Regions from separate parts of the Homo sapiens genome. Here region 1 is linked to region 2. Evidence: fine-mapped expression QTL. A gene starts in region 2. The other region holds a variant in brackets. All regions are shown on one strand. Distances are from middle to middle.

Region 1 (14,925 bases), 62 kb after region 2:
GGTAATTTTTATGGTCAGTTATATTCTATAACCTGAACACTGAAAACTAAAAACTTTTACTTACAAACTATTATTATCTGAGCACAGCACAGTGCTTTGCTTTAATTGGAAATAAAAATGCATGAGTGAGTGGTAGTCAGTTATTTGTTAAACTCCCAACTGGGGTTTCTGTTGTTACTGAAGAAAAAAACAAATATTCCAAGAGTACAAATATGCTGACCTCAGAGAGGCCCAGTGCACTAATGTGTTTCTATGTTATATTAGCAACAGAAACCTTCCTGACTTGCCAGGAGAGCCCCCGCCGGGCAGCCCTGGTCACTGCTAGATCTTGAGAGCACAGATTTCAGTATAGTATTCATGTGAAACCAGCCCTTCATGTAAAAAGTTTTGGTGTGTAAAAAAGGCAACTTAAGCGAGGCTAATTGCCCTTACCAGCATTGTTGCCATGAAATTCCTTTATACAGCAAGTTCTTCTATTCATACTGATTCCACTTATGTGCAGCACATGAGAGCTGCCACTAGTCTACCCAGCACCTTTGTGCAAATTAGAATACACCTGCCCTTCCTCGGGCTGATAAAGCCACACGACACAGCACAGGCAGACAGGTTCAATTTTCGTTCCCTCCACCGCCACCCCCGCACTTAGCTGTACTCTTAATTTGCAGCCCGGGGCAACTCATCCCAGGACCCCAACAAGTCTGGTCAGTCACCCAATCTGCAACCCTGTATAATCATCTTGTAAAGGCTCCTGTATGCAAGACTTTGTGTAGAACTTTACGGGGTTCATGGGGACACCTAGCTAAGAATCCCTGCTATGTAGGGAAACTGAGTGCATTAGAAATCCTGGCGATGCTCTGGTGATGAGGCCACCGGTTAAGTCTTCCGGTTATGAAGTCCATTCAGAAAAAGTCACGGGCAGTTTGGTCATTTCTCACCCTGTTGTTACAGTTAGGTTGACTTTCAATTCCTTGGGAAGTTGAAGCACAGTAAGACACATCCCCAAAACCTGGCTTTTTGCATTTGCCTTGACTCACGCAGTTTCAGAGCAAGAACGGCTCAGCATTTGTGAGGGGGCGGGCTTCCCAGATCCAGGAGCCTCTGCATGCACCCATGCGGAGTAGATCCTTCTAGTTTTGAAGCTCTCCAGAGTTAGCTGTGAAGACTAAAGGAAAGAAGAGATGCACTCACAGGTTGTCCAAGTTGTCTCTAAACAGACTCCATTCCTTTCTGGTAAGAAAAGTAAGATACAGTTGAAGGACGGCAGGGGAGAACGCAAAGATGTGTGAGTAATCAAGGAAGAGGTGAAAGGCCGCACCTTACTTTCAAAGCACCTCTCTCCAGAATGCTTGCCTCACAAGCTGCCTCATTCAAAGGCAAGGCTCTGCTGCTCCCCGCCTTCTTGCTGTGACCACATTCCTCAGGACTCTATCCCCACAGCCAGCTGACCCCATAAGCTGATGCTAGACAGTAGTCCTCCTTACATGTCAGTGGTTAAAAAGGCAGAGCATACACTGGAGGGAAGAGATTTATGTCTAGTGTCTGAAAAGTCATTCAAAAGGATAAAAACCCCATTAATGTATTCATTTAAAACAAACATGCCAGACAAGGCAAAAAGTAACAGTGTTAATTGTGGTGTTTTTCTCTCTACCTGTTTGAAACCGTTTACAGATGTAAAACACCCCTTTCAGCTTCATTTACCAGAATGCCTCTGTGAGAAATGCTGTCATTGCCAGGCCCACCAGGGAGAGGGAGTCTCCAATCCGTGCTAGACAGCTCAGCTTACTCCCCCTTGGTGTCTAGAAAAACAGACCTCACTTGTGCGTGCCCACAGGCCACTGAGGTGGAAGTCTGTTTTCATCATGTGCTAAAGTTGCCTGCCTGGCACCTCAGGGAACAAAGATCTCAAAGTCAGCCCCGAACCAGTGAACATTCTCCAGCTGGCCTGGAAACTGTTACAGACCAGGCACAGAGCTTCTGGCCTCCCCTGCGCATTATGGCTCAGTGGCTGCTTCGAGCCAGAATCTGGTGCATGTGTCTGAGAAATCCTCCAGTGCAGGTCCAAAGAAGCCAACATGCACAGCCATCTGCATGCCTTTGGGATTGGCGTGGGGCGGAGAGTCTTCTCCTGGGCTTGCTTCAGGGAAGGAGACTGGCTTCCCGGCCTTTTCGGAATCCAGCAGGAGCCCTCAGTTCAGCCCCAGCCCCTGAAACTTGGCAGTGTCCGTACAGACAAAGTAAGTCCTCAGCTCGCCTTTGCCTTTGACGTTGATCAGGCCACGGCATTCACAAGAGTACCCGAGGCCCTGGAGGATGGTGCAGGTCTCCTCGGTAACCTGAAAAGGAAGAGAGACCTGTTGTCTTCAGAGGCGGGAAGAACACCTGTCATGGTAGGGACAGATAGAGACTGCCCAGGCATGCAGTCTGCCTTCCCTGGAGAGTGTGATAGCTAGAACCATGGCTGCTGGGTGAGACAGCAGCTCTTAAGTCCAAGTCCCCTCACCTCTGGGGAAGATCTTTTCCCCTTAGTCAACTGCTTCCCCAATAGGTCTTTACCTGGATTTTCCCAAGTTCTCCAGTGCTTTCCATTCGGCTGGCCACATTGACAGTGTTTCCCCAGATGTCATACTGAGGTTTTCGGGCCCCAATCACTCCAGCAATCACAGGCCCATGGTTTATGCCTGAAGATGATGTTTACAGTTACCCAAGCGTGCAGGCAAAGCCTCAAGCTTCTGCCCTTAGAGGAGGCCAGAGAATCCATACCCCAGCACAGGATGCGGGGACAAAACAACTAGAGTGAAGGCTGGGTTGCTTCCCAGAGTCACTGCGTTGCAGTCGGGCTTGGGGTATGAGGAGGGCATTCCCCGGCCAGCTCTTTTTCAGACTCAGAAGTCTGGGTTTGATGTTAACACTTGTATCTGCTAATCTCTCTTTTAACAAAGAATACTTTGTTAAAAGTATTAACAAAGGCCTGGCTTTGAGCGCAGGCCCGCAACTATTTAGGTTTAGTAACTTTGCTTCCTTCTCTATATTTTAAGGTCACCTGTTTACAGACAATAATTTTGGTTCTCCATTTTCTGTAGTTACGTATTATTAAAACTCTCAATGGTAACTATATGCTAACTATATGCAAAACATCAGAATAATTGTCCAACTGCTGAGCTTGTCAGATCAGAGGGATTTCTAAAACCTTTCATAATAGATGGCGAGGTGCAGCTGTGCCACACAGACTGGGTGGACTGGCCTAGAGGCAGGGGCTCCCCACCCCGCTCCATCACCCGGGCTCACCGACGCGGAGGCGGAAGGAGTTGAAGGAGTGCCTGTTGATGCCGTCCAGCTTACTCATCAGGGCGATGCTGAACTCCACCATGACACCAATGTGGGCATGCTGCCGCTCCAGCTCCTGCGGGACAGGCTGTGGGTCAGATCCTTGCATCTCCAGAGCCCCCAGACCTAGTGGGCCCTGGCGCGCCACTCTTGTTGAGGATCCCCACCACTAAAATCCTGGCTGAGCCCTACAAGTACCTGTGCCCCTCCCCCAGGACGAGATAAGGGCACACCCTTTAAGTAAGGTGACAGGTCACCTTTAAGTGAGGACAGTCAGCTGAATTTCACCTCTTGGGCTTGAGTACCTGGTTCTCGTGCCCTGAGGCGACGCTGAGCCCTGCAGCTGCCATGTACGTGCTGCCGATGGTCTTGATCTTCTCCACGCCGCTGAACTTGGGCTTCAGTAGGAGCTGCAGGCAAGAAGGAAGCGGTGAAGCAGCCGCCACTCCATAGCCGCAGCCAGGCTGCCCCTGCTTCTCAGGAAGGGTGTGGGGTTCCCTCCACCCATCGCCGCCTCTCGCACACACGTCTCATGGCTGCCCTGCCAGCTGAGCGCATGACTAAGCATGGTGAGGACATGGCCCTTGGCGGCTCCTGCTCTTCCTGTTGTCTCCGTCCCCACACTGTCTCCCTCTTCCCTTCCATCTGTGTCTGCACAGAGCAAACACAGCATTATCTACACAGGAATGTAGATTCTTTGTCTCCAGCAAAGAATTCAACCCAAACTGATTTCCTCTGTTTGGCTTGGTTGATAGCGTGGGCTTAGTTGGAAATGAAGCTAAGGGGCCTGAGTCTAATCTTAGCAAGCTGCCCATCACAGAGAAGATGCCAACGAATTATTTGCTGCATAAAACAGAATGAAAAAGAAATGTGTACCTTTATATTCTGTGTAATGTATGTTCCCCCCAGGCGGGCCACGTCGTTTTTTTTTTGTTGTTGTTGTTGTTGTTTGAGACAGAGTTGTGTACTGTTGCCCAGGCTGTAGTGCAGTGGCGTGATCCCAGCTCACTGCAACCGCCTCCCAGGTTCAAGCGATTCTCCTGCCTCAGCCTCCCAAGTAGCTGGGATTACAGGTGTGCGCCCCAAGCCCAGCTTGTAATTTTTTGTATTTTCAGTAGAGACAGGGTTTCGCCATGTTGGCCAGGCTGGTCTCGAACTCCTAGCCTCAAGTGATCCACCCACCTTGACCTCCCAAAGTGCTGGGATTATAGACCACCTTGCCCAGCTCTGTGTCACATTTTTAAATTGGGTTTTAGGATGGCAGGTGCCACCGCCCTTCCCTCTCCAGCATGGGTGGGGGCTGCTGCGCAAGGCTGGGCTAGAGGCTGTACCTCGTCGAAGTCGGCAATGATCTCATTGAGCAGGCGTAGGCACTCCAGCCCTTCTTTGTTGACATCGCACTCTGTGTAGAACACTTTGAAGTCCGGCACGGAGGCAAACATGACACAGACGCAGTCATAGGACTGATGGTACCAGTCCTGGATGGGAAGAAACCGGACCTTACACCACTTCACCTCTTGAGGGGACAGGAAGAGTGGCAAGGCCTCAGGAGCAGATGGCACTGCTGAACTGCCCAGCCCAGCTTTCGGGGAGTGGGGAGGGGGGCGGGCTGCATGAGTTTCATCTGGTGGCTGTTACCGGGTGATTAAGAATTGGGTGGCCAGGGAGGGTCAGGCTCAGGTTGGTTTTTGCTCACAGAAGCACCATGGGTGTTTCCATGTACACATGGGGTGAGAACCTCTGCAGTAGTGGAGGGTAACGGGAGGTCTTCATTCTCACTGGGCCTCCGTTTCCTATCTAGAAAACTTGCTACACATAACTAGTAGAAGTACAGACATTTTCATCAACACAGAATGTCCAGATCACAAACCCCTGAACACACATTTCATCCTCGCCACAAGCCTGTGGGGAAGGGCTGTCAGCCCATTTTACAGAGGTGAAGACCAAGGCCTGGGAAAGCAAGGTGCCTTGTTCACGACCACACTTGAGCCCAGGTCCCTGACCCCAGGCCCATGCTCTCACAGCTGATGCCATACATTGTCGCCTGGGCATCCCGGTGAGGCCAGGACCTGAGGAAGCCAAGCTCAGCATGCACTCCAGCTCCACACCTTCACCCTACGGACTGCGCCTGGACCGTCCGCCTCCCTGCCCCCGCCCCAGCCCCTTCTCAGCACACCTCGTTTAACTTGTCACCGATAAAGTGGGCAGCCACGTGGGCTGGCAGGACGTTCTCCAGAAGAAGGCGGTTCACGTTCTCCATGGTCTCAAACTCCTCGTGCTCCTTCTTGAACTTCTTCTTCCATAGGCAGTCCAAGCGGCAGTAATAGTCAATCTGCAAACGGCAGCAACATAAGCGCCCCGTCCACAGGCAAGTGGGAGCCGTGCTGCTGTGCATCTCCTAGCCAGGTCTGTCTGTCCCTGGCGTCCTTGGAGCCTCTGGCCAGGGGACCAGTGCTTTCCTGGCAGGACTCTAGTCTTTTCTGCTACTCCACCTGAGCCCACCCCACCCCACCCCATCTCCAGATGGAGGTGAGGAAAAGTGGGCAGAGCTTGGGGGGGGGGGGGGGGCCAGCCTCCTTACCTGTCTGGAGAGTGTAAGCAGGGTGATGTAGAACAGGACCAGGTAGAAATTGGTCATGGTCTTCAGGTCCTTCCAGGAACAGCTAGGGGTGCCACTGAATGCGAAGGGAGGCCCAAGTCACTCCCAGCACTCACCACTCCAACCCACTGAGTCATGCTCTCCAGGTGCCACGCACACCCAGGGGAAAGGGGAAAATTGATTCTAATGGGGTGGGTAGAAAACAAGACAACTTTGGGGTATTATAAAGGGGGGAGGGGAGAGGTGGGCAGGGAGATGGGGGAGCCCTTGTGGGGAAGACCTCTGATCTCACCCCTGAATGACCAGAATCAGCTGTGATGAGGGCCTGAAGGGAGCCCAGAACTGGTGAGCCAGGGTCAGTGGCAGGCGGGGTGGGGTGGATGGGTGGCATAAGGATTTTGCAGGTGCGGGGCAGACCCACAGGAGCAGGTTCTGTTCTGGGTCCCAGGCTTCCAGCTTTTTTGTTTAGGGGGGCCAGGTCCGCTCCTTAATCCACTTGGGACCCAGAACCCCTAGAACCACACACCCCAGCCCTGCCAGCCTCAGGTATCACCACCTGTCCAGGAAGAGATGGAAGCAACTGCTCCTTCCAGAACTCGAGACCCAGGATGTGGCCTTGAGAGGCACAGAGCTAGAGCTGCAGCCTCCTTCCCTCCCCACCACTAGACTGGCCTGGAAACAGGATGACCCGGTGGCCTCTGTCAGACTAGGGACTTCCTAAAGAACCTGCCAGTGAATTCCTCGGCTCTGAGCGCTGGACACCATCTGCCAGCCCCGCCCTGCAAGGTGCCCACTCCCCATGAACACAGAAGCCCCTTGGTGCGAGCAGGCAGGCACCAGATGAACAGGCCACCATGGGGATGGGGACGGGGACGGGCGGGACCCCACCTGGTGGTGCCGTTGGGCTTGGTGAGGTTGCCCAGGCCTTGGCCGCAGCAGTCCCACTGCCAGCATGGGGAGAGGTTGAAGAGCACCAGGTAGGCCACCAGGGCCACTGTCAGCAGCACAACCTTTGGCTCCAGGCTCATCCTCAGGAAGACCGAGCAGGCGATGAAGCCCAGGACACAGCTGCAGGTGTAGTACTGAGGGGGCAGGGTGTCACTCAGGACAGGGCCACCCCACCACGTACTCTCGCCTCCAGCCCAGCACATACCACAGAGCCCCACTCCCTGCACCTCAGCATCACGCTCTTGCCTTACCACCTCCCTTCTCAACAAAAAACAATGAGACCTAAGAGTGTCCAGTGTTGTTTTCACTGTAGTTTTATTTCTTATGAAGTGAGCTCATTTAAACGGGAAAAAACAGTATGCAGGTGCTGTGGATACAACAGACCACAGTCAAGGTCAAGGCCGGAGCGTGCATGCATCCAAGCTGCCTCCCTGAGTTTTTGTGAGCTTACCCTCCCAAAGGACCTCTGCCCTGCTCAAGATTGTGCTGTGGCTCCCCAGCCCCCAGAATAAAGACCACGCTCTTCACACCCCGGCATTCCTGCACCTCCCAGTCTGGATCAAGCCTGCCCCCGGCTCCATCTCCCAGTTCTCCCCACTCCCTCTCCAGGAGACAACCCACCCAAAACCCCACTGCTCCCAACACACGCCTCGGCTTTTTCCCATGCTGTCCCTTGTCCCAGAACCTTTCTGCCTTTTAGAGCCCAGCTCACTGCACTGCCAGCCTCTGAAGCTGCAGAGTCTGCTGTCTGCAAGGCCCTCCAGGCAGAGACCTTGACCTCTGCCATCAGCCTGTCTGGGCCTGCCCTGGCGCCATCACCTAATGAAGCCCCTCCCTGAGCTGTGCATACTCGTGTATAAAATAGTGACAGGCCTGTCAGAGAGGAAGTGCCCTGACCAGAGACCCGCACAAGGCCAGATGCTCCCCTCACTCCCTGCCTACCCACACAGCCTAGACCAAGCCTGCCAAGGCCAGGACTCCTCACTCCCTTGGGCCAGAGGCCAGCTGGGCCCATGGGACCCTGCTTTCCCAGCTCTGCAGGAGAGGCTGTTCTCAGCCTCCACATGCTGTGCTCTCAGGGGTCAGCACCCATGCTTTGAGGGTCCAAACTACACCTCTGGCAGCAGCAGCCCCACTCTGAATGAGGCCACGGAGCCGGGCCCGGCGCACTCACCGGGAGGGGCTCACACAGGGCTCTTGTCTTGCTGCTCGCGGCCAGTAGGCCTGTCTCATTGCCAACAGGCAGCTCTGGAACTTGGAAAGGCATCAGGGGCTGTAGAGGAGACAGGTCCCCATCAGTCCAGGGACAAGAACGCTGGAACCTGCCCAAGCCATGCAAGGTGGGCCCCAGGCAACCATGAGTATCACAGCAGCCTGAGGTTTCACGTTGGGATCAGCTCTGAGCACGGCTCAAGCCGCC[G/A]TGCCGACTCCCCACAGCAGCCGTCAGGTTCAGAGGGCAGAGGGGCTAGGAGATGAGGGTGCAGACACCCCCAGAGCGGCAGCAGCCAGGGGGAGGGGCCGGGACCAACATTTTCAGCCTCCCCAGGTGACCCTGAGGGAGGTGGTCACAGGAACACATTCCAAAAACCCAGGGTCCGGGGCAGAGAGGTGAGGGAGAGGCCCTAGCCCAGGATGCGGGGTCTGGGAGAGAGGTGGACAAGTGTCCCGCAGGCTGCTTTCTGCAGCACTGAGCCTCTGAGCCCCAGCAGAGGAGCAAGGGTTCATCCCTGAGAGGGGAAACTGAGTCTCAGAAGGGCCGTGAAGAATGAATGGGATGTCAGGATGTGGTGGCTCAAGGCATCACATCCTCCTGGAGCTGGCCACACAAGCTCTCTGGGCCCCCAAAGTCCGCATTTGAGAACCCAAAGGTGAGGAGCCCTGAGTGTACAAAGGGGAACCCCCCACATCCACCTGCTGAGCTCGGGGGAGAGGACAACCAGAGGCAGCTTTTAAGGCCACATTGTAGGCGTCCCAAATCTGGAGGTCTCCCTCTACCCCGGAGGCCTGCCTCCCCACCACGGGACCCACCAGGTTGATGATGGCCACAGTGAGCAGGCTGCCGATGGTCAGGACGGCCAGGGTCAGCCTCAGCAGGGGCTGTGTCTCCACCCTCTCAGAGATAGTGCAGAGCGTCCCCCGAGCTGGGCAGCACCTCTGTGGGGTAACAGGGTCAAGTCACCCAGAGCCAACAGCCTGGGCAAGGAGGGCTGGTCGCTGGCAGCCTGGGGAGGGGTATCCTCGGGAGAAGCCTCCAGGGCACTCAGGAAATTGTCCCCGAGGCAGGAGAGATGGGCACCCAACCTTGACCAGAGCAGGGGCTCAGCCCAGCCAAGCTCACCAGGGAGGGCTCCTAGGCAGGTGTCCTGAGGCAGGGAGGGAGGGCCCGCGGGGCCAGAGCTCCCCACTTACCGAGAACTTGGTGGCAAAGCACAGGCCCAGCACCAGCCCCAGTACACAGGCCACCAGCCCGAAGGACACACCCAGTGCCGCCGTCCTGGAGAGGAGGGAAGAACCTCAGTTCTGCCTAGGGCCTTCTGCCCAGGACCACCGCCCCCACCAATCCTCTGGCTCACAGCCACCTGTCCCCACCCTACCTGGTATTCTGCCCACAGCAAAGGGGACCTGTGAAAACTGTGGCCCAGCTGCCCCATGGGCAATACACAGGGCCCAGCTAGATTATGAAGATTGAGGTCAAGACCATATCACTCTTTTTGGTCCAAGTGTATAAGAAATGAGCAATGTCTCTGCAGCCTTTAGACTCAGAAAAAACTGTAAAAACGCATTCCCTATTACATCTTTCTTCGTTTTTTTTTTTTTTTTTTTTTGAGATGGAGTCTCACTCTGTCACCCAGGCTGGAGTGCAGTGGCATGATCTCGGCTCACTGCAACCTCCGCCTCCCAGGTTCACACCATTCTCCTGCCTCAGCCTCCCGAGTAGCTGGGATTACAGGCGCCAGCCACCACGCCCAGCTAATTTTTGTATTTTTGGTAGAGACGGGGTTTCACCATGTTGGCCAGGCTGGTCTCAAACCCCTGACCTCGAGTGATTCGCCCCGCAGCCTCCCAAAGTGCTGGGATTACAGGCGTGAGTCACCACGCACAGCCTCCCTATTATGTCTTTAGTAAGCATAGCCAAAACCACAATCCTGGTCGATGCTTCGGCCTAACTGCTCTTCTAGAAAGCACCAAGTAGCTGACCTTAGATCCCCCTTCCCTCTGACTTCACCCTCATCCCTATACCCCACCAGCAGGGCCCTAGAGCCAGAAGCATGAATCTCAGTGAGTTTTGGATAAATCATTAATCCTCTGTGCCCCAATTTCCCTATATATAAGAGAAAAAGGATGGCGCCTACAGTTTTCAGAGTCTATCCTCCTAGCACTCCAAACACCTAAGGCAAGGGCTGTCAACCAAAATGCATGCAGGCCACACATATGACAGGTGGCTGAGGAGAGAGACGTTAGGGAGTAGGGAGGCCTGTGGCAGAAAACACACATTCTATTAAAAAGAAGTGTTGGTAACTCAAGGTGTGCTGCCACAGCCCCTGGTCCAGTTGCTAGGACCCCAGCAGCCGACCCCTTCCAGCCCAAATCACACAGCTCCTTGCAGGTTCATAGTCACCTTCCAGCCTGGATCCCAGCAGGCCGGACCCCCACACCCCTCCCTGCAACTGACCTGGGCATGAGCAGGACATGGACGAGCAGGATGCAGACGAAGATCAGGCTGGCGCAGGCAAAGTCGTGGCGGGCCCGGGGGATGGGTGCCAGGCGGTACTGGGGGCAGCAGGGACTGTGAGGGGTGGCCACCAGCAGTGCCACTTGCCCACCCTGCCTCCAGTGAATCAGCTTTAAAAAAAACACCTCCCTGCTGGGACAGTGGCTCACGCTTGTAATCCCAGCACTTTGGGAGCCGAGGAAGGAGGTTCACTTGAGCCCAGTAGTTTGAGACCAGCCTGGGCAACATAGTGAGTCCCCATCTCTATTTTTAAAATAATTAAAACCTTCCCACCCTCCTTCAGTTCCAGGTGATGTTACACTTGGTAAGTTTCGCCTGTTTCCATTCTCAGCTTTTTCCTGTTTGAAGACAATGCCTTCCCCTGCCCTACACCACCCGTCTCTCTCTTTCCAAGGTCCCTGCAGAGCTCATGGCCCCAAGTACATGGACAGGAGCCAAGTCTGAGCTTCCGGGGCTGTCCTCACCTCAAACCAAGAAGCTGGCAGGTAGGGAGACCATCCCGCCCCCCACCCCCACTCCCACCCAGGCACCATCGCAGGATCACAGCCCCAGAAGGGTTCCTGCTGCAGGGAAGGAAAGCAGGCTCGGCGGCCCTGGCCACACTGGCCACACCCTGCCAGGTCACTTGGCCAGCAGGTTTCCTCGTGACCTCACCTAGGAAGCCCCCAACTCAGGGAGCCACACCTGAAGCTGGGGACAGGCTCTGAAGCCTCTGAGAGCCAGTTTCCTCTCTGTGAAGTGGTATAGCAGCACCCCTGGGCTGGCCGTTGTGACGGTTAAATTATATAATGTGGGTGCCGAGGATGCTGCCAGAACCCAGAAGGCGCTCAGTAAAGAAATGGTCGTTATCAGTACAAAAAGCTCATAGCAGCAAGACAGGACACTGATAACTGAGCTTTGGGTTCTCGTCTCATTGCAAGGCCGGTGCCATCAGCCTGAGGCATCCATGCCAGGATCTGCTAAGGCTTTGGCACTGGACGGAGCAAAAGTCTTGCAGACCCATGGAGGCAAATCTCTGATGGTGCATTTGGGTCATGGAATGAAGCCGACAGGAGAGAGCCAGGCTGGTGCTGCACTGGCCCCGCCCCTGCCCCCCGCCCAGGAGCAGCTGTGGATTCTCAGTGCCCCTCCCCTAGCCGGTCTTGGGAACGCAGGCTGCCCCATGACCTGCGTCCCCCACCCTACCCCAGGCCTGGAGACCCCGTCCCTCTGCGGAGGAGGCTGCTGGGGGCCCTCACCTCGCGCTCAAAGCCCTTCTCCAGGAAGATGGACCCAAAGGTGTAGAAGTCATCGGACTTGGAGCAGCAGGGCCTGTGGGCGGGGGCAGCTGCGGTGAGATGGGGGCTGGGAAGGGGTCCATTCCCTCAGGAGGTGGCAGCAGGCAGGGGGAAGGAACAAGGCTGGGCCACCAGGCATGGGGTATGAGATGGGCCTGCCCATATAGGGGACCCCTATCCGAGGGGGAGAGGAGAGGGGGGTGGACAGAGGTCTCAGACCTCACCTCGTGGAGCTGAGCCCCTCAATGGCTGACAGCATCTCGTCATCGTACGAGTCATCCTCCGACCGCCCCTTGGGGGACATGCTTCTGGAATCAGATACCCACAACTGCATCAGCACAGCGACCACCTCCAACTCTCCCAGAGGAGGGTGTGGACGTAGACACCAGTGGGGTCCCAGAACCTCAGGTGGGATGGTGAAGGAATGGGTGGGTCCCACTGAGGCCCAGAGAGGGCGAGTGAGGACCCAGCATGGCCCAGCATGGCCCAGCTGGCCAGCAGCCAAGCCAGAGGCAGAGGGCAGACCCGAGCCCCAGTCTAAGGCATCTTCGGCTACACCCCCGGGATTGGCATGGGGACCAGGACACCCACAGTCATCTCCTTCCCTTCCACCGACTCCACTGACCCCGCCAGGGCACCATACAACAGGTGCTCCATCATGTGGCCATGCAGAAGGGCCAGGGGCCAGGAAACTCTGGTTCCTAGAAATGCTTTGACCCAAGCCCTGGCCAACTTCACAGAGGTCCTGGGCTGGGCCTTGCGGAGCTGCCCACTGGACAGAGGCTGCTCAGGGCAGCCTGCTTGGAGGAGGTGGCTGCAGCAGGACTTGGCCAGGAGGGCAGGGCACGCACCTGTCTGGGGTCCGGCGGTGGCGCTGGGGAACGCTCTGAAAGGGAAGGGAGGAAAGGATACAGTCATTCCCCAGAACACTGGGCCCTGAAGGCCACTGCTGGGCCAGGTTCAGCCCCTCCGGCACTTGATACACAGGACAAGGTGTCGGGGTCGTCCAAGCCACAGACATCCTGACTATAGCTGAGCGTGGTCCAGGCATCAAGGAGGACAGGGATGTTCCTGGCCATCCCGGAGTATTCTCCAAATGTCTTTGCTTCCTCTCCAGCCCCAGGAGGTGGGGCAGAGGCTGTGGCCATTTTACAGATGGGGACAGTGAGGCTGAGAGGGCAGGAGATCTTCAGCACTCACTCTCCTGCTCCTGGCTTGGGGCCCCAATCCCTGGCTTTCTGGGTGGGAGGGGGACCTACCTTAGGCCTCCGCCCGTTGGGGACGTGGGTCTCACCACTGCTCACGCTCTCACGGTGGTTGAGATGTGCAAAGGGCCGTGCCGCCCCCCAGGACTCGAGGTACCGGGTCATGCGCACTGACGCCCGCATCTTCAGGGCCGCGTCCCCCTTGGGCCTGGGGAGGTGTTGGCTGGGCGGGGGTGGCTGCTGGCTCTGCGGGCAGACATGGACATGGGCCTGTGCCACCTCCTCCCCTCTCGGCCCAGGAAGGGGCCGCCATCCCCATCCAGCTCTCCCTGAAGTGTGACGCCGCCCTGAGCCCGTGAAAAAATAAACAGCAAAGAAGTTGCTCAACCCGCAGTCCCCTTGGAGAGCGGCTGCCCTTGGGGACTAGCCAGCCAAAGCCTGGTGCACTCTGAGGCCAGGCCATATGGGGTCCCAGCTCGGTGCCCTGGCCTTTCCCCAGGCCGAGAAGAGGCTAGCAAGTACCCACCACTGTACCCAACCCCATACCCTGCTCTGCCTCCCCAGGGAGAGAGGCAGGGCTTGGGTCCCAAGCCCGAGGCCCCACTGCCCTTGAGGCTCCTTGGAACCAGAGAGTCCCTGGGGCCTGAGCACCCATCAGCTCCTCCCCAGGAGGCGCCTGGGAAAGCCACAGGCATCCTACCCTGCCCTCCCACGTGTGGCCGGCACGCATTCGCTCCTTCCTGTGAGAAGCAGCCAGGAGGAAGAGGGGTGCTAGCCGCCCCGAGAAATGGCCAAGCCAGAGGCCAGCCAACCCCCAGGGCAGCGATCCAGGGAGTTCCACTTGTGTGGCCCCCAACCGCAGATGGCACAGGGCCATGACCTGCCACGTGCCTGCGAGACCCAGCCTCATGCTGGACACTCAGTAGTTCAGCCAGGCCCTGAATGCACGGCCAGCCCTACCCGCCCCCACTCATGCCACAGACCTGAGACCCCCACCCCGATCCAAGAACACATGCCTGAGGCCTTCGCCAGTTGGGGTGGCCAGACAGGACTGGAAAAGGGACAGGGAAGAGAAAGACCCACAAGGCCACCAGAGATGAGCTTAAGCGGGCTCCAGGTCTGCTGAGTCTCTCCTTAGCCCCTGAAACATTCCTCTGCCTCCGGAAGTCCTGTCTCCTAGGGCCCCACAAACACCCCATGGACAAGCCTCCACAGCTACAAGCACTCGATAAGCCACAGCGCAACTTTCCTGGAAACCTCTCACCTCCTTTTGGGATAGAAACATTTTTAAGCCCTTAGCTGCATCTATCTGCCTAGCCACGGGAGCCACGTGGAATTCAGCCTCGGTGAGTGTCCCAGAGCAGGAAGAGCGCGCTGGCCCTGTGGTGAGCAACCTGGTGGGGGTGGATGCGTTTCTCTGTCCCCTCCTCCATTGTGACAACTCTGCCTACACAGCACCTAGCCACTCAAGTTCAAGGTCACTGGCACTTAGCAGAGAATCCAGACACCCCAGCCCCCTGAGAAACAAATAAAAAGCAGAAACAAAAATCAGATTCCTCAGTTCTGAGCAAACACATGCCTACTCGGAATGGGCATGGCATTGGTATGAGCCCCACGGGGGCAGCTGCAGCCACCATCCAGTCCACAGGAGCCCACCTTGCCCCAGCCAGGCCACACAGCAATGGCGTAAGGCAGAGCCCATAGAAGCCAGTGCAGAAAATCCACCTCCATGTCAAAAACAGGAGCTACAGACGAGCACCCTGCACACAGGAGGGATGTCCCCAAGGTAGGAAAAATGCAGGGTGCGCGACCATGGGGCCCGCCACTGCCACCTTAGCA
Region 2 (13,814 bases):
CTCTAGGTGGGTACATGATATAAACCAGTCCAATCACATAGCCCTGTGACTTTTGATGGGCCACTGGGGAAAGGCACATTCCCTTTTTTTCTGGACTGGGATCTATGAGGATATCATCTGGGAGCTTCTAGAGGCCAATGGAGCCTGTCTGAGGATGGGACCAGGGCAGAAGGAAGTAGACCAGAGAGAGAGAAAGCCTGAATCTTGGGGACATCATTTGAGCACCTGGATATAGCCACACCTGAAGCTCAACCTCATTAGGGATGGGTTTCTGACTGTCACATGGAGGCCAAGCAATGCAAGAATGAGAACCAGGCTTTGTGATCTCCAGTTCAGTGTTCTTCCCCTAAATCAAGTTCCAGCTGACTTTATCCAGCCACACAACAAGCTCAACTAATCTGTGTGTGGCTTTATGGTCTGCTAAAAGATGTGTATTTTAAAAATAAAAACATCTGATCATTATAATGTTTTATCTAACCGAATTACAGAGCCGTGGAAGGGCCCCTGGAAGTCCTATCACTGAGTGGTTTTCAAAGATTTTCAGCAGCTTCTTGTTTCAAATGAAGTTTTAAGCAGAATGCCTATGTGTGAGAAATAAAAGCAGTAGCTTGTTAGTGCAAATGTGTTTTATCTTTTACGTTAAAAGTTCTTAACATTTGGCTGGGCACAGTGGCTCACGTCTGTAGTCCTAGCACTTCAGGAGGCCAAGGCAGGTGGATCACCTAAGGTCAGGAGTTCGAGACCAGCCTGGCCAACATGGGGAAACCCTGTCGCTACTGAAAATACAAGAATTAGCTGGGTGTGGTGGTGCATGCCTGTAAACCCAGCTACTCGGGAGGCTGAGGCAGGAGACTCACTTGAACCTGGGAGGCGGAGGTTGCAGTGAGCCAAGATCATGCCACTGTACTCCAGCCTAGGAGACAGAGTGAGACTCCATCTTAAAAAAAAAAAAAAGAAAAAAAAAGTTCTTAACATTTACTTTTTACAATCAATGAAGACCCAAATGTCAATGTGTTATTCATTTCCAATGTATAAAATTTTATTATATATTTGCATGTGTGGGAGGTTTTCAATCACTTTTTAAAAATTATTTATAATTGATACATAATAATTATACATATTTATGGGGTACAGAGTGATATTTTGATACATATATGCAATGTGTAATGATCAAATCAGAGTAATTAGCACATCCATCACCTTACACATTTATTATTTCTTTGTGTTGAAAACATTCAAAATCTTCTTTTCTAGCTATTTGAAATATACAATAAATTATTATTAACTATAGTCACCCTACAGTGCCAAAGAACACTAAAATGTATTCCTCCTATCTAGCTAAATATCCATCAGCAGACGAATGGATAAAGCAAATACACAGTGGAATACTACTCAGCCTTAAAAAAAGAAGGAAATCCTGTTGTTTGAAATAACATGGGTGACCTGGAAGACACGACATTAAGTGAAATAAGCCAGGCACAGAAAGAGAAATACTGCAGGATTAAAGGCTAAATCCTTTGCCCTCACTCATATGTGGAAGCTAAAGGAGTTGATCTCATGGAAGTAGAGGGTAGGCTAGAGCAGGAAGTAGGGTAGTAACTGGAGGCTGGGAAGAATAGGGAAGGCAGATAGAAAGAGGTTGCTTAACACACATCTATGCCAAGACGAAGAGAGAGGAGCTGAGCCACGTCCTGGCGGCCATGAAGAAAGCAGCTGCCAGGAAGGACTGAGCTCCCTGCCCTCTGCCCAAAATAAAAGCTTCACAGGAAAAACAAAAACAAAAAACAAACAAACACAAAAAAAAGTTGGTTAATGAATACAAAATTACTAGATAGAAGGAATAAGTTCTAGCATTCTATCACTGTTCTTTTTTAATAGTTAAAAATACTTTTTTGGGAGGCCGAGGCTGGCAGATCAGGAGGTCAGGAGGTCAGAAGATCGAGACCATCCTGGCTAACACGTTGAAACCCCGTCTCTACTAAAGATACGAAAAATTAGCTGGGCTTGGTGGCGGGCACCTATAGTCCCAGCTACTCGGGAGGCTGAGGCAGGAGAATGTCATGAACCCAGGAGGCGGAGCTTGCAGTGAGCCGAGATTGCACCACTGCACTCCAGCCTAGGCAACAGAGTGAGACTCAGTCTCAAAAAAAGAAAAAAAGAAAGAAAAAGAAACTTTTTAAATAATTGGGGTAAACGCCAGGTGCAGTGGCACACGCCTGTAGTCCCAGCTACTTGGAAGGTTGAGGCAGGAGGATTGCTTGCACCCAAGAGTTCAAGGTTGTTCTGCACTACGATCGCCCCTGTGAATAGCCACTGCACTCCAGCCTGGGCAACACAGCAAGACCCCATCTCTAAAATAAATGAATAAATAAAGTAAATGAAAAGTCCCTCAGATATTTTCCATCTTTCTGTGGGCTTATGAGTTAAAAAAAAAAAAAAAAAAAAAAAGAACCTTTTAGTTTATCTGGTTTTGTCAAAGGGTCTCCTTTTGATGTCTAGTTGTTCCAACTTCAGAAATGTTCCCTTTCTCTTGTCCAAGAAAATTAAGTCTAAGTATAAGCTAATGTTCCAGAATAGTGCTTCTCAAACTTTAATACACATATATGAATCACCCAGGAATCTTGTTTAAAATGTGAATTCCGATTCTACAATCCTGAGGTGGGACCTGAGACTCTGCATCTCTACCAAGCTCCCAGGTCCTGCCAATGCAGCCGTCCCTGGACCAATCTTTGAGTAGCCAGGCTCAATAAAGGGGTATCATGAATCTATCCCCTGAGGCAGGGAGAAAAGAATCACCACCAAACTCTAATAAAAAAAAAAAAAACACCACTGGAGAATATCTGGAATGACATATACCAAACTATTACAGAAAGTGGTGAGATTATGAGCAATTTGAAATATCTTCCTTACACCTATTTGTATTTTCAATTGGTCTATAACAAACATTAATTACTTAGGCAATAAATAGGTTTAAAACTAAATAACTGAATCAAGAAAAACCTAAAATACACACATATTTTTAAAAACAAAGTCTTTATCAGACACTGACAGAGCGTCAGAAGTGCTTCCCTAGAACCAACAGCTTGAAAGCAGCCAGTCGAGTCCTCTTTCTTTATCTTTTTACCTTTTTTTTTGTTTTTGAGACAGGATCTCACTGTGTTGCCCAGGCTGGAATGCAGTGGCACAATCATAGTTCACTGCAGCCTTCACCTCTTGGTCTCAAGTGATCCTCCTGCCTCAGCCTCCTGAGTAGCTGGGACCACAGGCATGCACCACTACACCTGGCTAATTTTTAATTTTTTATAGAAATGGGGTCTCGCTACGTCACCCAAGCCAGTCTTGAGCAATCCTCCCACCTCAGCCTCCAAAAGTGCTGGGATTACAGGCATGAGTCAGCGCATCTGACTGACTCCTCCTCTTTCTGCAGCCCTGTTTAGATGGAGATAGGGGAGAGACATGTCCAGGTTTCACAGCCAGTCTTTGGCAGAGCCAGGACTATGAAATTAGAGATCTGGGTGACATGGCACAAGCCCACAGCCACAGTCTGATAAGAGTTTATCAAACACATAGTGACTTTCTGTGAAGGGAATTTAATCCTGGGCCCCGTCCGCAGGGCAGTACTCCAAGGAATCATGATGGACCGGGAGCCCGGGCCTGCAGGATCATTTCTGAGCTGCTCATGGTCTGTCCCCAGCCTGGGGCTCCTGGAAAATGCCCAGCTTTCTCCAAGGTGACCATTTCATCTGGTTTATCCCACTTTACAGGGGGAAGTCCACACCCCACAGCCTGTCATTCAAGGCCTCAGTGTTCCCTTCTGTATCTCTGTCTCATCACACCTCCCACTCTCCAGCATCACCTCAGTGGCCTTGCATGCACAAGTCTACTTGTCTGATCCACCCTCCCCCAGCCCTTCCAGTGCTTAGAGGCTCCCTGCAGCCTGGCCGAGCTTTCCTTCCTCTACACACTCTCAGCCCGCCACTGCCCTCACCTGGCTCCAGTGCTCTGTCCTCCCCTGCTGGGTGTCCTACTCTCCTGCTTCTCCTCCTGCCTCCCTCCCCCTCCTCAGTCTCCTCTGCTGCTTCCTCATCCTTTATTCACCTGTTAGATAATATTGAAGCTCTTCAAGGCTCCATCTTCTCTGATCACTCTACTCTCTCCTCCTGGGTGGTCTCATTCACTCCTGAGGTTCCAAAGACATCTCTATGCCAAAAATCTATTTTCAGGTCTCACCTCCCTTCCAAGCCCCAGACACATGCATTCACCTTCCTACTTGGATTCTCCTCTTGGGTTCTGCATAGGCATCCCTAACCCCTCCTAAGTTCTTCCTCCTACATAACTCTTGAATTATCCCATTGCACCATCCCCACATCATCCACGCTAGACCAAGCCACCCCCATCTCCCCTTTGAAGACCACATCACTTCTAAGCTGGTCTCTCTGCCCGGTCTCCTAACCCACTCCAATTCTTCCTTCATTCAGAAGCCAAAGCGCTCTTGTTAAATTGCCAATATGGCCATGCACCCACGTCCACTGCCTTCATGGGCATCCCAAATAAAATCAAGCATCTCTGCCATGCCTTGAAAAGCTCTGCCCAGCCCAGCCTTTCTTCCAGACACAGTCCCCATCATCTCTCTTGCTCCAAACCTGCTCTCCTCTCCTCCCTGACTGCACCCAACTTTCCCTCGCCTTTGCACATGCTGACCTCTCTGCCTGTTTAGTAGATGCAGCTGATGCCCCCTTGGCTCACCTCTCCTGAAGGCACATCCTGCTGGAGGGGCATCACCAGCAGCTGGGAGTGTTGGCCACTCACGGAAGGCAGCCGCACACCTCCCTCAGAGAATTGCCCTGGGACAAACTAGAGTCACCTCTGTAATAGGCGACAATCAGGCAGACCTCGCTGCCCACCATGGGCTACAAAAGGCCAGCCACCTCCCACAGGGTGGGACTGTTCCCTGGACAGTTGATGTTCCCAATCCCCCCTCGCCCCGCCACCACTGTGGCACGGGGCTGAGGCTGGGACCACCTCTTTCTCTGCTTCTACCCACCCCGTCCTGCTTCTCTCCCAGCTTCTCCCCAATTGCCACCCCAACAGATCCACGCCTCAGGTTCCACTTGTAGGGCACCTAACCAAGACTTATCCTCCAGGTTAGGCCTGGATGAGCCCTCAGCCTGGGTCAGAGCACTATCTGGACAGCAGCTTGCTGTTTTCCTTTCTAACCGTTAGCATGGCCATGATTAAATATTTGTCTGTGTTCTCTGTCTAACATGCATCTCACTGTGCTCTCCATAAGGGCAGGGCTGTGTCTATTTTACTCCCACCGTGTTCCTAGCACCCCCCAGCACATAGTAGGCACACAGAAAATATGAACTGAAAGAAGGAAGGAAGGTCCTGATGTTGCCTCTGTCTTATTTGATCAAGGGCTCTGAGGCTAAATGACTTTTGGGGTTGGCAGCCGTGAGTGTCATGGCTTGGGCTCGCTGCCCTCCAGTAAGCAGCTCTGAGACCGTGTGGGCAGAGGCCATGTGGCATGCCTGCGTGGATGGCGGCCATCCACCGCCTCTCTCTTTTCCTCACTCAGAGGCAGCAGCTGGGGCTGCTCCGCCAGTGACCGTGAGCAACCCTGGAAGCTGCACTGTCAACAACCTGTCATAGCGAATCACCCCAGGCCACTGATTCCCCACAGAGCTGCCTGCTGAACCAGCCTCAGCCTCTTGAGGCCTCTCCCAGCAGCACTCACAGGCTGGCATCAGGCTGGCACCAGGAAGGCCCAGACCTGCTCCTGGTGCCAAATGAGGCACTAGCTGGAGCTGCTGGGAGCCTGGGCTCAGGGGATGCCACCTCCCACCCCAGGACAGAGGGCAGGAATCCCCATGGAGTATCCAGGAGAACCGGCCCTTTCCCACCCACCGTCTGCCCCATTACACTTGGGAAGGCCTGTGTTGTGCCAGAACATTTCTCACTCCTTGCTTTTGCTAACCCTCATGCCAGCCACACAGGCTGCATGAGGCTGGCTCTGCCCATCCCTCAGAGGAGAAAACTGAGATTCAGACAAAGGAAAGCAGGAGAAGAAGTTAGTAGCCCAAGGATTCTCTCCGTCTCAGGAGTTCCCCATCCTGCATCAGTGCTGCATAAGGGGGCTTTGAGGAGTACAGCCAAACAGAGGCGAGGGGGCTCAGAAGCCCCTGATGTTTGAGGCTTTTAGTCTGTCCAGATCATAGGTCAGCACCCAGCAGCCCTCTTTCATTTGTTGGCTATAGGGGAATAGCTATAAAGGGTTCCCAGTGGGTGTCCCAGAACCAAGGCCCCTGAGTTTCGCCCAGCCCTCATCCCACCCAACCAATGAAGGCCACACTCTACCTCAGGGTCAGGTGGCAAGGACATCAGCTGTGTCCCAGAGCGTCCTCTCTGTCAGAGCACCAAGGCCTGAAGGCACCCTGGGCAACAACTCCTCAGCAGAGAGGCCAGGCTGAAGAGGGGCCACCTCCAAGCTGAGCTGCGCAGAGATTTCCTGGGCATGCCACACCCCCCAGTGGCCAGGCTTTCTCCTCCACAGACTCTCCCGGAGGGCTCCAGTCACCTCGTGTCTCCACCAGAAAGGGGAGGAAGGAGGAAGAGAATTATTATCACAACACAGTAATTATGATGTATTCATTTGTCCAACAAATATTTCTCCAGGGCCTGTGCTGAGCCCAGCTCTGTGCTAAGTGCGGGGCACACAGCCAGGAGTGAGACAGACCTAGTCCCTAACCTTGGGGACCTGGGAAGCCAGTGGACAGATGGTGGACACGCACACAGATAGGGAAGAGATATTCAACATAATTTTGGAGGCTGTAGGTGCAATGGAGAGAAACAAGGCATTGCACAGGCTGAGGGAAGAGGGGAAGGGGTGTGTGGGTTGGTGGTCCAGAAGCTTCTCTGAGGTGGTCACAGGGGAGACCAAGGTGATGTGAGGGCAGGAGCCACTCCAGGAGCTCAGGGGAGAGTGTTCTGAACACAGGGAAGAGAAGCAGGGGCTTGGGGCAGGAGGGAGGAGGGGGCAGGGGGATGGGGCTGGAAAGAGAATGAGGGCCAGATCCGGCCCTGAAAGCCAAGGTGCAGATTTGGCTTTGACTTCGAGTGAGACAGGGAGCCACAAGATGGTTTTGAGCAGGAAAGTGACATTCACAAATATTTAAAAGTTAGTATTAGCAGCTGATATTTATTGACCATTTACTATCTACCATATCAGGCATTACTCTCGGCACTCTGACCACATTATCTTCTTTGATCCTTACAACCACCCTGTTGCAGCAGCACACCCAATGACCTCACCCTGGTTCCAAGGTTCAGAGGTAGGCAGCCCTCTCAGGACATGCCAAAGTCACAGACCCTGTAAGCATCTGTGACCCCAGGACTCAAGTCAGCTCTGTCTCACTCACTCAAGAGCTGTTGGGCTGTTGGGGGAGAAGTCTGGGCACAGCTTAACTGGGGCCTCTGCTTCTGGGACTCTCACAGGGCTGTGATCAGGATGTCAGCCAGGGCTGAGGTCTCATCTGAATGTTCCACTGAGGAAGGATCCACTTTGAAGCTCACACAGTTGCTGGCAGGATTCAATCCTTCAAGGCTGTTGGACTGATAGCCTCAGTTGTAGCCGGATGTCAACTGGGGCCCAGCCTCAGGTCTTTGTCACATGGGCTTCTCCAGCATGGCAGCTTACTTCATCAAAACATGCAAGCCAAGAAGGCAAGAGAGACGGTCAGCAAGTAAGACTGAAGTCTTATGTATCCTCAACACAGGAGTGACGTCCATCATCTTTGCCATATTCTATTGCTCTGAAGCCAGTCTCCAGGCCATTCTACACTCACTGGGAGGTCATGAATGGCAGCAGGCAGAAATCTCTCAGGGGAGTCTGCCCGAACCAGGACCGTGCAGCTCAACTAGCATTTTCTGGTGCCTTCTATGTGCCAGGCATGGTATTAGTGCTGAGAATTTAAAACTAGATGAATTTGGGCTTCCACTTCCAGGAACATTTTTCTGGGAGGTGTTTTCTGCTACGTACTCTTATTCACTTTCCATTGATGTGACCACTTTGTGACCTATGTAGAATCACTCTTGAGAGGGTAGGGAAATTACTAACTTGATAGTATGGATGAGTTCACCAGACCTTTTTCCTCTGAGGGGCATTTGGACAGTAGTAGTCACTGTGCTAGGCACTGTAAGTACCAAGGAGGTACCCAGGGTAATGAGGAGCAGACAGGTAAACCCACAGGTTGAGCCTGGAGCAAGGCAATGCCACAATAGAGGCCAGACCCACAGTGGGAGTTGGCATAGTGGTTCTTAAAGCAAAATAAGTTACAGACAGTGGATGAAAAGCTGAAACCAAGCTTTGCCCTATGCTTAGGGGGCCTAGGGGGCCTAGCTGGCTTGATTTCAGAGCAGCAGAAGGTCTCTTCCCCAACACAACCCCTCTTCCCACACCCTGATCTCTGCCTCACGGACACCAGAGAGGCTTGTTACAGGGAAATAATAGACACACACTTTTAGCTTTCATGAAAAAGCAACTCTCTTCATTAGAAGAACCTCATCTTCCCTGGCTAACCATAGAAGTCTGGCAGGAGCTGCCAATCACAGACTCCACTTCTCTTGGCCAAGGGGGTGAGGGGGTAGATTTGGCATCCAGGCCGAATCAATCTCCCATCCCCTGTCCCATAAAACATGTGACACAAGCCAAGCCAATCAGAGTCCTTCCCTGGGACTGTTTTCCAGGTGAAGCTGACAGGAAGAGATCTTTTTCCCAGTTGGTCAGGACACTATAAAGAAGAGGCCTCAGAAGCAGATGGTGGCCATGTTTCCAGCCATATAGGAAAGAAGGGGGGAGATGGAGACCGATATACAGAGAGACAAGAGAGAGAGCGAGCTGGCATGCCAGTCAACAGCATTACATCCTTGGTTCCTGTCTTCCCTCTGGCAAGCTTTATTCTTGCCCTTTCTAGACATGTAAACCAATAAATCCCTTTTTATTTACTTGAAATAATTCAAATTGGTTTCTATTAGTTGCCAACAATAGGGTCCTAAAATATAAGCCTATAATTTCACCACTGAAGTTCAAGGTAAAGCTACAAATCTTCCTGGGAGAGGTGATTCATGGGTCTAAATTGTTACTAAAGTATAAATGACTGATAACAGATCCTTTCTTAAGAGGAGACTATAATTACGAGCTTATCTGAAAACAGACAAAGCACCATACAGCTAGAAGTAAAGACAGTCAAAACGTCTGGTAACCTTCACCTATCAGCACATAAGTTTTTTTTAAGATTAGAATCTTCAGTCACCAATGTGCTGAGTTTGCTGGGTCTGGCACCCAGTATGGGGTTCAGTCAATATCGTAAAAGGGAAGAAACAGAAGCAAGGGAAAGTGGAAAGAAAGGAAGAGTGGGGGAAGGAGGAAGGGGAAAAAAAGAAAAGAAAAAAAGAGGGAAGGAGACGGGAAGAGGAGAAGGAAGGGTGATGAGGGAGGAAGAAAAGAGAGAAGGAAGGCTTGAAGGGAGGCAGTAAGGAGGGAAGAAAGAAAGGAAGGAAGGAGGAAGGAAGGGAAGAAGGGAAAGAGAAAGAAAGAGAGGGAGGGAGTAAAAAGAAGGGAGGGAAGTGGAGACGGAGGGAGAGACACACAGAGACAGAGACAAGACAGACAAATTGAGGGGAAAGGGAGGAAGGAAGAAAGACGAGAGTCTGAGCGGTGGATCCCGCCCCGGCCCCGCCCTCGGCCCCGCCCCCGGCCCGCGAGCTGCAGCACCACCTCCGGTCGCCAGGGGCCGCCACCCGCAGCCGCCGGCACCCTGTGCGCGCGGCGGGCCTTCTTTCCCGCCTCTGCGCCGGCCGCGCGCCCCCCCCGCCGCCGCTCTCGGGCTCCGGCCGGGTCTCGCGCGCCGTCTTCTCGAGAGGGGCATCGCGCCGCCCGGCGCGCGCCGCCCCCCTGCCTCGCGGCGCGGGGTCTCGCGGGCCCCGCTCCCGCCCTCCGCTCGCCTGGCCCGGACCGGAAGCGGCGCCGCACGGCCTGGGCCTGGCGCGGGGGGCGGGCACCGGGGCCCGGTCGGACATGGGCAAGAAGCACAAGAAGCACAAGTCGGACAAACACCTCTACGAGGGTGAGGAGGGGGCCGGGGTGCGGGCGGCGGGCCCTCGGCGGCTCTGCCGGGCTTCCGCTCTTTCCCAGTGGCTCCGGGGCGGCCCGGGGCCCTTCCTTCCCACGGCAGGCCCAGGCCGGCGAAGGGGGCGCGTCCTGCCGGAGGCCGCGCTGCCCCCCGTGCGGCCGCGGCATTCGAACCCGGGTCCCCCTGGTCCGGTGGGTCTCTGGTGGGGAGACGTGAGGCGGGCCCGGGAGGCCTGGGAGCGTTCGGGGCGGGCGGCGCCGCCGCACCCCCGGGCCGGGGTCCGTCATTCAACAGGTGCTTCGCGGAGCGCCCAAAGCCGCCTCGGGCTTGCTGCGCCTTGGCGCTCTGCATCCTTAGCACTCCCTGGAGAGCCCCGATTTTAATCGACGCGCTTTCCTTTCTTTTCTTTTCTTTTTTTAAGAGTATGTAGAGAAGCCCTTGAAGCTGGTCCTCAAAGTAGGAGGGAACGAAGTCACCGAACTCTCCACGGGCAGCTCGGGGCACGACTCCAGCCTCTTCGAAGACAAAAACGATCATGACAAACACAAGGACAGAAAGCGGAAAAAGAGAAAGAAAGGAGAGAAGCAGATTCCAGGGGAAGAAAAGGGGAGAAAACGGAGAAGAGTTAAGGTACAAGTGGTTACATTGCTTTGGCTTTGCGGACGGCACTGCCTCTTCCAGGTGCCAACCTCATTTTATTTTCTTTGTATCTGGGGAAAACAAACGCCTCTAAGATCTGGCTCGTTTGAGGAGGAGCAGGACAGAATAGAGACATGAATCATCTATGAGTTTCAGCAAGTCGTTTTTGGATTATACTCTTAGGCAATTGTACTCGCACATCAGGTGAGGAAGCAGCTAAGTCCAAATTTTGAGGAGCTGCTTCAAAGAATGGTTTTTCCATCTAGGCAGGGTAAAAAGTCATGCTCAAGAAAGCCTCAGTGTTCAAGGATTGTCAAAAATAGTCATTTCAGAAGCGAGTGGGATCTACTGGGGTTTAAAGTTTGTTCTGAAATAAATATTATAATGCCAAATCTGTAATGAGCAACTTTAAATCTTTTAAAACAGTGTTGTAGTGTGTTGAGAAAATTTGGTCAGAAACCTGTAATGGAGATTGATATTCTTAACCATTTGCATTTAACAGAAAAGAATGAGTAGCTACCATCTTGGTTTGAAAGCTGGGCAAAATAATAATTAATGGCTGGGCCCAGTAGCCCACACTTGTAATCCCAACACTTTGGAATGCCGAGGTGGGAGGATTGCTTGAGGCTGGAAGTTCGAGACCAGCCTGGGCAACATAGCAAGGCCCTGCCTCTGCAAAATAAACTACAAAAATTTCCAGAGCCTGGTGGTGTGCACCTGTGTCCCAGCTATTCAGGAGGCTGAGGTGGGAGGATCCCTTGAGCCCAGGAGTTTGAGGTACAGTGAGGTATGATCATACCACTGCACTCCAGCCTGGGCAATAATACGAGACTCTGTCTCTAATAATAATAACATTGTTATTACTGTTATTAACTTTCCAAATTTAACCTGCCACTGAACGACTTATTACATCAATTATTGTGAAGGTAAATTTTCATAGGTTAGTTATGTAATTTTTCTTATGTTTATATATACAAGAGGAGCTTTCTCTTCCATGTGATTGAACACATTGCTAAGTCACCAAGTCTTAGAGATCTTATTTTGGGGATTTCTTAAGTCTATTCCTTCCCTTTTGTCCCAGTTTTTATTACCTTTGGCTAGGTAGGAGTAATGTTTTGTTTTCTTCCTTAAATTATAAAACCCATATATGCATTTGATTTTTTAAAAGTAGTTCATGTGGTGCAAAAGTACACAAAATGGAAAAAGTTTTCCTCACCCCAATCCTTCACATAGACTCCCTCTTCAGAGGTAACCAGTTGTTTTTTTTAATTAATAGTAGTAAAGTAATTCGTGAAGATGATTTTTAAAAGTCAAGAGTACTACACAGCTTTTTGACACAAAGCAGGCTGCTGCTCCACTCTGGACACTTTTTAGGTATTTTTCCTTGCCTACTTATTTCTATTTCAAAATAAAGGTTTATATTGCTATTTACTGATTTAGCAGTTTATATCTTCTACTGACATCATGTTATGGAAGATGAGAATTCAGTTTCCCTTGCTCAAGGTATAGGTACATCACAATTATTGGTTAAATCAATATTAAAGTGATTGTAGACAAGTATAGTATGCAAATATAGATCTGATCTTAACTAGTTAGATCATTGCTTTCATTTGTTTGGTTATTGCTTAATAATTCTTCCCAAACTCTAAGATTTATGAAACTCATTTGAGTTCTTTACTTCCTTTTTTATTTTCCTCTGGAGACATTTATCTTACAGCTTTCTGTCTCCTGGAGGCTGAATTAGTTGCTGTCAAGGCCTCCTGGGACTCTCCTTCACCTGCTTCCTGGATCTCATGCCTTCCTCTTTCTTGATTCATTCCCTTGTTCTGGTGGACTCTTAACTCTAGGAACGTCCTAAGAAAGCATACACGGGGTAGATTTTATAAGTTCTAACATGTTTGAAAATCTGTATTCTGCCCTCATACAGGTTGATGGTTTGACTTGTTTAGATTGAAAATTATTTTCTTTCAGACTTTTGAAGGCATTGCTTTGTTGTTTTCTGGCTTCTAAATTTGCTGTTGAGAAGTCTGTTGCCATTCTGATTCTTAGTCCTTTGCATATGACCAGTATTTGCTAACTTGAAATTTTTAGGATCTTCCCCCCTTATCTTCAGTGTTCTGACATTTCACAATGAATACTTGTGCCTTCAGTTCAGAGCTGTGTGCTTGAAGTATTCCTGTGTTCATTTCTTTCCCTCCATTTTTTCTTTTCTTGGTTTCTGGAACTCCTGCCCTTTAGATATTAGACTCCTGAACTGATCCTCTAATTTTCTTATGTTTTTCTCATATTTTTTCTGGGTGTGTGTGGGGTGGGGGAGGGTTCTTCCTTCAGGGAACATCCCTAAAATTTCTGACTTTTCCAGATTTATTTCAGATCTTATACCTTGAATTTCCAAGAATTTTTTCTTGTTCTCTAACTGTCCTTTTTGAATTAGCACCCTGTTCTTGGTTTTAGATGCAGTATATTCTTTTCTTTCTCTGAGGATATTAATCGAAGTTTTTTCCTGTTTTTTTCTCCTAAGTTTTCTTTTGCTCCCTGCCCTGTCTCTCTCTCCCAAATTCTTCCATTTATTTGTCTGTCTCTGTTTTCTGTTGAAAGCATCCTTTAGTTGTCTGTTGAGCTTTTGCAGTTTGTACAAAGCTGAGTAAATGCTTTGTACCTAGACAGAGTTTGTCAGTTGATGGACTTTATTGTAGAGTGACTAACAGGGACTCAGTCATTTTGGTGAAGAATGCCCCAATGTCTGTACCTTACAGATGTTTTCTCTGGGATTTTTAGTTTCTCCAGAGAAAAATCCTCCTCTCCTAGGAGATGGATTTTGCCAGTTTTATCCGTGTTTCTGGAGCCAACTATGGGGCAGGGGCTGAAGGTCTTACCACCCAGTTTTCTGAGTCTGGCATTTCTCCTTATTTTGGCTCGTCTCGAGATTTGGAGACTCTCAGGTTCCCTGCCTCCTCCAGTTCTGAGCTTTTCCAGGGTTCTGGAATTTAGGCTTTTTTCAAAGGTGTCCACCTCTCTGCATACGGGAGTATCTTGCTTTCTCTG

What was found. PIP is the estimated chance that this variant, and not a neighbour inherited with it, causes the effect. A credible set is the group of variants that fine-mapping cannot tell apart.
Region 1: its variant is the best candidate, but not a certain one, in a credible set for the expression of BRD7 in whole blood (INTERVAL, PIP 0.86).

What each region holds. Positions count from the first base shown.
Region 1 is chr16:50,302,767-50,317,691 of GRCh38, reverse strand. ADCY7 (adenylate cyclase 7) reads right to left here. Exons shown (of 26, transcript NM_001114.5): 11 at 13,141-13,332; 12 at 12,733-12,767; 13 at 12,106-12,189; 14 at 11,843-11,915; 15 at 10,545-10,642; 16 at 9,281-9,365; 17 at 8,900-9,025; 18 at 8,046-8,144; 19 at 6,812-7,005; 20 at 5,906-5,999; 21 at 5,501-5,656; 22 at 4,656-4,802; 23 at 3,630-3,734; 24 at 3,286-3,400; 2 more. The coding sequence ends at 2,187. It overlaps BRD7 (bromodomain containing 7), which reads left to right. Exons shown (of 17, transcript NM_013263.5): 17 at 1-1,735. Among named protein-coding and RNA genes, the nearest start is that of MIR6771, 18 kb to the right of the region's middle. RefSeq lists enhancers at 3,061-4,260, 7,560-7,854. The variant G/A (reference allele first, on the strand shown) is at 8,292.
Region 2 is chr16:50,365,036-50,378,849 of GRCh38, reverse strand. It overlaps BRD7 (bromodomain containing 7), which reads left to right and starts at 9,862. Exons shown (of 17, transcript NM_013263.5): 1 at 9,862-10,124; 2 at 10,552-10,760. The coding sequence starts at 10,076. RefSeq lists silencers at 3,818-4,112, 9,684-9,933, 9,964-10,473.